Homo sapiens: one gene and its partners. The protein of the gene in region 2 interacts with the protein of the main gene of each other region in a pairwise test. Each region holds a gene or a part of one and is shown on either strand. Other genes may lie near its edges.

Evidence for each region.
Region 1: the proteins of NDUFAF2 (region 2) and TMEM97 interact in binary tests that used the Homo sapiens proteins (3 or more experiments, as listed by UniProt).
Region 3: the proteins of NDUFAF2 (region 2) and NDUFA7 interact in binary tests that used the Homo sapiens proteins (3 or more experiments, as listed by UniProt).

Annotation. Positions count from the first base shown.
Region 1 is NC_000017.11:28,322,142-28,325,787, forward strand, and holds part of TMEM97 (sigma intracellular receptor 2), read left to right. Parts: intron 1-3,361; coding exon 3,362-3,506; intron 3,507-3,646. UniProt on the Homo sapiens protein: Sigma-2 receptor which contributes to ameliorate dysfunctional cellular processes and slow degenerative progression by regulating cell functions including cholesterol biosynthesis/trafficking, membrane trafficking, autophagy, lipid membrane-bound protein trafficking, and receptor stabilization at the cell surface.
Region 2 is NC_000005.10:61,067,197-61,070,849, reverse strand, and holds part of NDUFAF2 (NADH dehydrogenase [ubiquinone] 1 alpha subcomplex assembly factor 2), read right to left. Parts: intron 1-3,653. UniProt on the Homo sapiens protein: Acts as a molecular chaperone for mitochondrial complex I assembly. Complex I functions in the transfer of electrons from NADH to the respiratory chain. The immediate electron acceptor for the enzyme is believed to be ubiquinone.
Region 3 is NC_000019.10:8,311,344-8,314,996, forward strand, and holds part of NDUFA7 (NADH dehydrogenase [ubiquinone] 1 alpha subcomplex subunit 7), read right to left. Parts: intron 253-3,653; coding exon 162-252; 3' UTR 1-161. UniProt on the Homo sapiens protein: Accessory subunit of the mitochondrial membrane respiratory chain NADH dehydrogenase (Complex I), that is believed not to be involved in catalysis. Complex I functions in the transfer of electrons from NADH to the respiratory chain.

The DNA of each region.
Region 1 (3,646 bases), on a different chromosome or scaffold from region 2:
AGTGGTTGGGCTGAAACATGCACAATAAATTTTTTTTCTTGGATTGCACCAAATCACTGCTTGGAAAAACTCATTTTTTTATTTACTTTTTGTTTTTCTTTCTTTTTTTTTTTTGATTTTGTTTTTGAGACAGTCTCTTGTCGCCCAGGCTGTAGTGCAGTGGTGCAATCTCGGCTCACTGCAACCTCTGCCTCTCGGGTTCAAGCAATTCTCCTGCCTCAGCATCCCAAATAGCTGGGATTACAGGTGCTTGCCACAACGCCTGGCTAATTTTTATATTTTGTTATAGATGGTGTTTCACCATGTTGGCCAGGCTGGTCTCAAACTCCTGACCTCAAGCGATCTGCATGCCTCAGCCTCCCAAAGTGCTGGGATTACAGGTGTGAACCACCACGCCTGGCCTGGAAAAACTCTTATTTTATTATGAAACAGTAAGAATTTAGTTTGGATAAGAACATGGTAAGGAGAGGATGGGAAGCATTTTGTAGTATCATTTGCAGCTGGGTAACATTGCTTCTGGTAAAAATAAGGAAAAACAAGTGAGCATCTGGCTCTGAAATCAGTCTGTGTTCCCATTCTAAATTATAGAAGTACAAGATTGGTGAGTAGCAACCACTGGTTTAGAGATCGTGCGTGCAGGCCAGGTGAATCTTTTATGTATAACAAGGGTGGGTTGAGTCAAATAGAGTCAGGTATAAGTGGAAACAGTTTCATTACCTTTGGTAGGGAGGCCATAACTAATAATTTTTAATGACCAGTCGTGAGCTGCGATTTTAATGGGATTAAACTTGAATATCTCCAAATATGTATTAATTACATTCAATTAATCATTATGTGCTAGCCATTATTTTAAAGACTACATGTATTAAGTCACTCTCTTACCAATAGTGAAGTAGGCACTATTACTGGCTCTATTTTATTGATGGGGACACAAGTGTAGGGAGATTAAAGGCCTTGCCTAAAGCCAGGCACTCTACCCCAGGTCCTACACGCCTCACCCATCTGCCAGGTGCCTGGGCTTTCTACTCTCCTACTCACAATTAGTCCCAGCCTCATTCTGGCATCAGGTGGCAGGTATATGACTGTGGGCAGATGGTTGGTTACGATTATGATAATTCATTATTACGACATCTGGGTGATTGTTTTTTAAATTTTGCTGATCTCATCTTGTAGGCCTTAGAAATTAAAGTGCTGTACAAGTCTGCCTCAGTTTATGAAATAGTTGGATCAGAGAGGTTGTAAACAAATTGAATAGAAAGTGAAGTTCAAATGGCCAGAATGCCTTTTTTTTTTTTTAATTTTTTTTTGAGATGGAGTCTCGCTCTGTCACCCAGGCCGGAGTGCAGTGGCTCGATCTCGGCTCACTGCAACCTCAGCCTCCAGAGTTGCTAGGATTACAGGCGTGAGCCACCACACCCAGCTAATTTTTGTATTTTTAGTAGAGACGAGGTTTCACCATGTTGGCCAGGCTGGTCTCAAACTCCTGACCTCAGGTGATCCACCCGCCTTGACCTCCCAAAGTGCTGGGATTATAGGCATGAGCCACCGGGCCTGGCCCAGAATGCCTCTTAAATTTTGCAGTCAGGCCGGGTGCAGTGGCTCACACCTGTAATCCCAGCACTTTGGGAGGCTGAAGCGAGGATCGCTTGTGCCCAGGAGTTCGAAACCAGCCTGGGCAATGTGGCAAAACCCCGTCTCTACAGAAAATTAGCTGGGCTTGGTGGCGCATACCTGTAGTCCCAGCTACTGGGGAAGCTGAGGTGACAGAATCATCTGAGCCCGGGATGTTGAGGCTGCAGTGGGCCGAGATCAAATCACCACACTCCACCAGCCTGGGCAACAGAGACTGTCTCAAAAAAAATAATAATAATTTTATAGTCAATCTTTTAAAGCAGGTAGTGTCATCCAGTATTTTTAAAAATCTAAAAAGCAAAAAAGGGATCTTAAGAAAACATCTAGTCCAAGTTGCTCATTTTACAGATGAGGAAGTAGAACCCTGGAGAGGGACAGTGACTTAGCCTTTGTGTTTCTTATCAATTCAATCCTATTCAAACCACATTCCCATCCAGAAAAGTGCTTAGAAGGAAGCGAAGGGCATTGCTATGAATTTCAATTTCAAATTAAGTACAAATTTGGATATCCTTTGGTCAATAAATTGGTTATCTAGCCAAAGCCTTTCTGAAATTAATAATATGCTAACAGGATATTTGTTTCTGGATGTTTGCTTAAAGTGCTCTTGCAGCAGTGGGGCTTCTATTTCACAATAGCGAGGCTTTATCTTTTGATTAAAAATTAACAGGAAAAATATTCTTGGATTTTCCATTGTAAGTAAGATAAATTCTTACCCTGGAGTTGCCTTTATTAATCATAATATCAAGACTTATTTGTCTTTGAAGGCCTGTGTGTCAGGGCAGCGCCACATCTAGGAGGTTAAATGTGACAAACGTTTAGTAGTCCACATAGAGCCAAGAGCACTAGGCTTTGGGCTCCTATAAAAGCCCAAGATGGGAAGCCTTAAACTCTGCTTCTTTTCTCTGCCTGTAGCCAGGTCAGCATGGATCCGCATCCTTTTTATTTGACAAGGTAATTACAAGCGTGGGGCCCAAGCTAGAACTGAGACGCTAAAACCCTGCATAACCAAGAAGCTACTAGGTAGTTTGTAGTTTGGGGCAGAGTTTGTTCTTCCACTAAAATCCTGTCTCCTAAAATAAACCAAAAATTAGAATTAGGGGAGTTAAGGAACTTGTTTGTCATATTGGAATTAAAGTGTCCAAAATTACATCGCCACAGAGGTTAGATTTACTTCCCCTTTCACTCCCACCCCCACCCCGCAAAAAGAAGAGGGAAATTCAATTCATTTCTGCATTTGAGGGAATCTGGCCTTTGGAGGAGTTTGGTGTGTAGTTGCCATTACAAAAGGGAAAGTGTCAGGATGGTTTTCATGTGTATTTGTTTTTTTAAACAAAGAATGATATTGTTGACAGAAATGTCACATTTGTTCATTCAGCGAACACCCTGAGTGCCTACCAAGTGCCAGATACTTATTGTTGCTCCTGACAGTGGCCAACACACCTGGATGTGTTATCTTGGAATTATGAACAGATTCTGGGTAACACAAAGAAGGGGCTGGAAGAGTTGAGAAAATTTCAGAGAAGGGAACATTTGAGTTAGGGATAGTAAGTTTTTATTAAATGACCACCTAGGCTGTGTCACAAAAGCCAGCTGGACATGCCATCTGCTGCCGGGGTAGTGGGGGGTGGCTAATTAATGACAGGCTCCTCCAGTGTATTTTCAAATGAGCTAGCGCCGAGCCTGTTGAGGGCAAGTGGCTGTAATTCATCATGATCGTTTTCTTTTTCAGTTTAGAAACCTGCTGAAGTGGTATGCTAAGGAGTTCAAAGACCCACTGCTACAGGAGCCCCCAGCCTGGTTTAAGTCCTTTCTGTTTTGCGAGCTTGTGTTTCAGCTGCCTTTCTTTCCCATTGCAACGTATGCCTTCCTCAAAGGTTGGTAAATGGTGGGAAAATCCCATTTTTACTCAGAAATCAGGTCCCAGAAATCTTTTGGGAAAGTATCTCCAAAGGGAAGGGGATGGTCCCCATAGTTTGTGGGAGAATGCTACAGGATCTGGGGTAAATAGCCAGGG
Region 2 (3,653 bases):
CTATAAGTTTTTAAATGTACATCCATAAAGTTTAGCACATGGGGAGAGGATAGACAGGTCTATCGTTCTCAGTAGCACTACTAAATGCATATATACTACAGGCATATCTGCAACAAAAAAAATAACTTTCTATTCCTACTCTTAGGTCGATCAACTTCATGTAAGGTCTCCCAAGGATTTAAAAAATCAAAAGTTATGCCTATTTGTGTGTATGTGAGTGCGTGTGTGTGTGTGTGTGTGTGTGTGTGTGTGTATGCAAAGACAGGAAGAGTAATTAATGAGCTAGTTTAATTTCAGGACAATCACTGAATAAACCTTTATTTAGAAATAGTTGAAATAAAGATTTTTTAAAAAAGTATACATCTTTAGTAATATAAAATAAAGCTATTAGCTTATTAAATAAATTCTTTGTAATCAGATATGTTTATCTCCTCAATAAATCACTGTAAAACTACTCCCTTTTTTTGGAATAAATACTACTTGTTCAATTTTTATGAATTGGGAATGGAATTTATGCCTCCCACTGAGTAAGGAATTATGCACAAACTGTACACTTACTTATACTAATATGCTTTCATGCAATATTTGTAAAGACAACTCTATTTATCACAGCAAAAAAATTTCCATCGTAGTGAATACAGCAAATTTAAGTACCTGCTCAAGCATCAAAATTTTAGGTTCTAATTTACATTTAAAAATTAACTTGGTGACAAAAACATTTAATCCAATATATGTGTAGGTTCAATAAGTCCTAATACAACAAAAATAATTGACATTGGTGGACTCAATGAGTATTATTAAATAAAACAGTACACAGTTGTTTTATTTAATACTAAACAATATTATATTTAATTGAAACACAGGGTTTGAATTCAGGAAGGTAGTAATGGTCAATAATCTATGTATTTAAAGACTGTAGATATAACAGTATATTTTTCCAAACTTTAAAAAAAGAAAAAGCTAGCTGCTGTTGAGCTAATTGCCTTAGGAGGATGGTAGATTTCCTATTTCTTTGTTTAGAAATATATGGAGCCCATTTAATTTTAAAAAAAGAAAGAAAGGAAGGAAGAAAACATAATAAAAGGTGAGATCCCAAGGCATATCGTAGATGACAAGGGTTTAGGTAAAAGACAGGTTTCACATGTACTACTGAGCTTCTGGGACAGTGTATGAGCACCCTGGACACAGATATGGGAAGGAGCCTCTAGAGCAGAAACCTAAACTTCAGCCATTCAAGTACCATCTTTGCAATTTTTGCCATACTTTAGAGTACTATAACCTAATATTTTTCTTTACAGTGATTTGCATTTTTCCTCAATACTCATTTTTACCTTACTCTAAAAAATATTCATGTAATCACTGACTTAATGTGCTAGTTGTGTTTTTTGCTCACCCATAAAAATAGATTTAAAAAATTTAAAGGGTTGTCTTTGTGTCATCTAAAGTCATCTTATAGACCACAGTTGGGAAACCACACTGCAGACCACACTGGGTTGTAGAGACAGGCCCAGCCACACATATGGTGTTACAGGGCATAGAAACCAATACAACCAGCAGGAAACTCCTATGGACAGGTAATGGGTGTTGAATATCAAAGTCTTGCTTGGATTACATTTACCCTTGATTTCAAAAAATCCTGTAGTTCACAACAATGTTTTGTTAGGTTTGAAGGAAGAAGGGAGAGGTCCTAGATTTCCAGAGTCAGGAAAAAAAAAAAAAAAAAGCACTAACATTTATGGCATGTTTACCATGTGCCAGATATTGAACTAAGTTTTAGCTCTGCATGAGTAATTTCATTTAAGCTATACAATGCTATGAGGTACTATTATTACTTCATTTAAATAAACAATTTGTACATTTCATTTATAAAGAGATTGAGGCTTAAGAGAACTTAAGACATTTACTTGCTAGCAAACAGATATCAGGATTTGAACATGGGTCTTTTGACTCCAGATCCTAGACACTTAACCACTAAGATATGTTGCCAGACTTTCAGATGACTACAAATGTTACATCTACAAACTGACATTTCGGTTGGTAAAATACAAGGGCTAAGCTAAAAGTAAAAGAGTAAAAATCACTATTTCTTTCCAAAAAAGAAAAACCACTGCCTTTCATTAAGGTGTTTCAGAATGTGGAAGACACATCTTAAATCAATTAACTTAATCCTAATAATAGATTCATTAAAACTTCACTGAAGAAAATCTGGAAAATACCAAAAAGTAGAAAAAAATAAAAATGACCTGTAAGCGCGTGACTCAAAATATCATATTAACATGTTATTGTTCCCTTTCAGACTATTGTAACTAATAGATTATAAATACACAAACACATATACATGTGCGCATGTATTTATGAGATTAAAATTGTACCTATATCCTTTTTCCTACCACATGGAAAATATAAAGGTTTTCATGTCATTGTTGCATAACTTAAAAAGGAAAATCAATATTCAGTTTCTGAACTTACTCTGACATTCTGAGGAAAAAGAAATTTCTTGTAAAAGTGTGTTAATAACATTTCTTTTGTTCAATTGTGTTTAAAATGTGAAGATAAAAGTAAAAAAGATTGCCTTGTTAAGCATAGGCAGTAAAGCAAGTTAAAAAATACTAAAAATGAAAATGTATGCCAATTAAAGATATGTATCAGATATGCTATACAAAGGAAGTTTTACAAATTAAGGCAGAACTTCAAGATCCGGGAGGAAGAAAGAGGTAAAGTATAGTGATCCATACATTCTTTATGTTAACATGTAATGGATTTATTAGTGATATTTTAAAATGAATTAATAAACACTTAAAAATCTCACTTTTATGTATTTAAAATAAATTTCATTGTATATATTTAAGGGATATAACATGATGTTGTGGGATATGAATAGACAGTAAAAAGGTTACTAGAGTGAAGCAAATTAAAATATGAAAACATGCTTATCATCACTGGCCATCAGAGAAATGCAAATCAAAACCACAGTGAGATACCATCTCACACCAGTTAGAATGGCAATCATTAAAAAGTCAGGAAACAACAGGTGCTGGAGAGGATGTGGAGAAATAGGAACACTTTTACACTGTTGGTGGGACTGTAAACTAGTTCAACCACTGTGGAAGTCAGTGTGGCAATTCCTCAGGGATCTAGAACTAGAAATACCATTTGACCCAGCCATCCCATTACTGGGTATATACCCAAAGGACTACAAATAATGCTGCTATAAAGACACATGCACACGTATGTTTATTGTGGCACTACTCACAATAGCAAAGACTTGGAACCAACCCAAATATCCATCAATGATAGACTGGATTAAGAAAATGTGGCACATATACACCACGGAATACTATGCAGCCATAAAAAATGATGAGTTCATGTCCTTTGTAGGGACATGGATGAAGCTGGAAACCATCATTCTCAGCAAACTATCGCAAGGACAAAAAACCAAACACCACATGTTCTCACTCATAGGTGGGAATTGAACAATGAAAACATATGGACACAGGAAGGGGAACACCACACACTGGGGACTGTTGTGGGGTAGGGGGAGGGGGGAGGGATAGCATTAGGAGATATACCTAATGCTAAATGACGAGTTAATGGGTGCAGCACACCATCATGGCACATGTATACATATGTAACAAACCTGCACGTTGTGCACA
Region 3 (3,653 bases), on a different chromosome or scaffold from region 2:
AGCCTGGGAAACATGGTGAGACTCTGTCTCTATTTTTTTATTTTTTAAAGTAAAACTAGAAGTGATACCTGAGCTCTACGTATTTGTCATAAATTAGGTCACATTCTCCCTGGAGGAAATCCAAGGAGGCAAAGTAGTCGGGTGGCCGTGAGGGTGCAGTGTCACAGGTAAGGCTGGTCCGAGGACAGCTCCCACCTCTTTATGGGAGGAGCTGGAGTCACCGCCTTCTTCTCAGTGGCAGCTACAGCAGAGCTGGAGGAGGGAAAGACTTCAGTGAGGGTTTCCAAAGAACAGTGTGGAAAGATCTGAGGGAGCCCACACCTGCCCCGGGACAAACACACCCACAGGGACTTTCTGGACCTGCAGGACAGACAGCAGGGTGTTCCAGAATGCCAACCCCTCCAACGCAGCCCCTCAGAGGATCAGCCAACGCCAGGTGGGAGCTAGCAAGCCTCCTCTCTCCCCTGAGCCCTGTATGAACCCCCTGCTGTGGCCCCCAGGCCCAGAACCCACTGTGGAGAGCTGGGCTCCTCCCTTCCCACTTTTGGTCTCCAGCGTACACAAGGCCCCCACCCCCATTCCTGCTGCCCCTCAAAACAGGATGCTGGCAAAAGGGCCAAGCGATCAGGTGACAATGGCCTCCAGCTATTCCTGCCTCAGACTGGGCAAGAACTGCATGGCAGGCGCTACTGTGTGGGCGCAGAGCCAGGAAGATGGGGCACCGCCCTCAGGAAGACTCAGGCTGGTGGGGCTGAGAATCCATGCGCAAATGGCAACTGCAAAACGCATCTCTGGCCCAGAGCTGGCCAAGAGGGAGCCCCCAGGAGACCCTGTGCCGGCAAGTCCAGGACGAGCACCCTCCCCTCTCACCCCACCCACCTGAGCCTGTGGAGCTCACACACTTCACAGCCTAAGCAAGAAAGGAAGCAGGAGGGTGGGGTGATGGAGGAGGCGCCCCAGGGGTGGAGGCACAGGACCTCCCAGGAGCCTCAAGGAAATGGAAAAGGCAGAAGTGGCCTCCCTGGGAAATGCACACATCTCTGGGGGCATGGCAAGGGGCTGTGTGGGAACAAGGTATCTTGCCACACTCTGGTGCTGGACTCCAGTGAATCAGAAGGTGACAACAAGGACCACTCCACTGAGTTCCTTCTTTTTGAGACAGACTCTTGCTCTGTCACCCAGGCTGGTGTGCAGTGGCACAATCTCAGTTCACTGCAACGTCCGCCTCCCAGGCTTGAGTGATTCTCTTGCCTCAGCCTCCCAAGTAACTGGGATTACAGGTGTGCACCATCACTCCCGGCTAATTTTTGTATTTTCTTTCTTGTTTATTATTTATGAGACAGGGTCTCACTTTGTCACCCAGGCTGGAGTGCAGTGGCGCAATCTCAGCTCAGTGAAGCTTCCTCGACCTCCCAGGTTCAAGAGATCCTTCTGCCTCAGCCCTTCAAGTAGCTGGGCCTACGGGTGCACACCACCACACCCGGCTAATTTTTGTATTTTTTGTAGAGATGGGGTTTCCCCATGCTGCTCAGGCTGGTCTTGAACTTCTGGGCTCAAGCGATCCACCCGCCTCGGCCTCCCAAAGTGCTGAGATTACAGGCGAGAGCCACAGCGCCCCTAACTTTTGTATTTCAGTAGAGGCAGGGTTTCGCCCTGTTGGCCAGGCTGGTGTCGATCTCCTGACCCCTAGTGATCCTCTCACCTCGGCCTCCCAAAGTGCTGGGATTACAGGCGTGAGCTACCATGCCCAGCCTAAAAAATTTCTAATAGAGACGGGGTCTCGCTGTGTTACTCAAACAAGTCTAGAACTCAAGCAATCCTCACACCTCAGCTTCCCGAGTCACTGGGATTACAGGCACACACCACTGCGCCTGGCCTATTCACAGAGTTCTTTTTTTTTTTTTTGAGACAGAGTCTCACTCTGTCACCCAGGCTGGAGTGCAGTGGCGCGATCTCAGTGAGCTGCAAGCTCCGCCTCCCGGGTTCACACCACTCTCCTGCCTCAGCCTCCCGAATAGCTGGGACTACAGGCGCCCACCACCACACCTGGCTAATTTTTTGTATTTTTAGTACAGACAGGGTTTCAACATGTTAGCCACGATGGTCTCGATCTCCTGACCTGGTGATCCGCCCTCCCCGGCCTCCCAAAGTGCTGGGATTACAGGCGTGAGCCACCGCGCCCAGACCTCACAGAGTTTTAAGTACAGAGCAGGCCCTGCCTGACCTCATCACCTCCCAGATCTCAGCACACTGCAAGTCTAGCATCCCTATTTTATATGTGAAGAAACCAAGGCTCAAGAAGGCTGAGGGACTGCCCACACCGTGAGTTGGCTGTAGAGCCCAGACCCCAACAGGAGTCCAGGAAAACTGGTTTGAAATCCTGCTTCTGCTTACTGCTGCCTGTGTGGCCCAGGCCAGTCACTTGGCTTCTGTGAGCCTCGATTTCCTCTTCTGCAAGAGGGGTCATCACCATCTAACTGGTGGAGTTATTAGGAGGTAGGCAGGACACTGACTCTGTGCCAGGCTCCAAGAGTTTACAAATATTAATTATGAGGACTAACCCTCGTAACAGCTTTCTGAAGTAGATGCTATTAGAGTCCCCATTTAATTAAGAGAAGACACCTGAAACCAGGGACCAAACTGCTTTTTGAGAGGAGCCCAAGGTTTATACACTTCTGTCTCTGAGAAGAATACATGGCTGGGCATGGTGGCTCACACCTGTAATTCCAGCACTTTGGGAGGCCGAGGCCAGAGGATCACATGAGGTCAGGAGTTCAAGACCGGCCTGACCAACATGGTGAAACCCCATCTCTACTAAAAATACAAAATTAGCCTGGCATGGTGGCATGCGCCTGTAATCCCAGCTACTTGGGAGGCTGAGGCAGGAGAATCACTTGATCCTAGGAGGTGGAGGTTGCAGTGAGCCGAAATCGCGCCACTGCACTCCAGCCTGTGCAATAAGAGTGAGACTGTCTCAAAATAAATAAATAAAATAAGAATTCATAATTATATCAACAGTAATGTCTCAGTTTCTCACAGGACCCTTGGAGGGACCCCGGACTTCATCTGTTTTGTAGGATGCAGAGTCCTGGCTGAGGCGCTAACTTCTACCCTCCCCTGGGTTGGACTAAATGAGCTCTTGCTGAGCATGGTGACTCTCACTTGTAGTCCCAGCTACTCGGGAGGCCAAGGCAGGAGGATCGCTTGAGCCCAGGAGTTTGAGAACGGCCTGGGCAACAAAGCAAGACCCCATCTCTACGAAACATTTAAAAATTAACCCAGCATGGAGGCCGGGCATGGTGGCTCACGCCTGTAATCCCAGCACTTTGGGAGGCCAACGCGGGCAGATCATGAGATCAGGAGATCAAGACCATCCTGGCTAACACGGTGAAACCCCGTCTCTACTAAAAATACAAAAACTTAGCCAGGTGTAGTGGTGGGCACTTGTAGTCCTAGCCACTAGGCAGGCTGAGGCAGGAGAATGGCGTGAACCCCTGGGAGGCAGAGCTTGCAGTGAGCCGAGATCACACCACTGCACTCCAGCCTGGTGTGGGGATAAGAAAGAGAAATCAGATTGTTAATGTGTCTGTGTAGAAAGTAGACATAAGAGACTCCATTTTAATCTGTAATCTTACCCCCAACCCTGTGCTCCC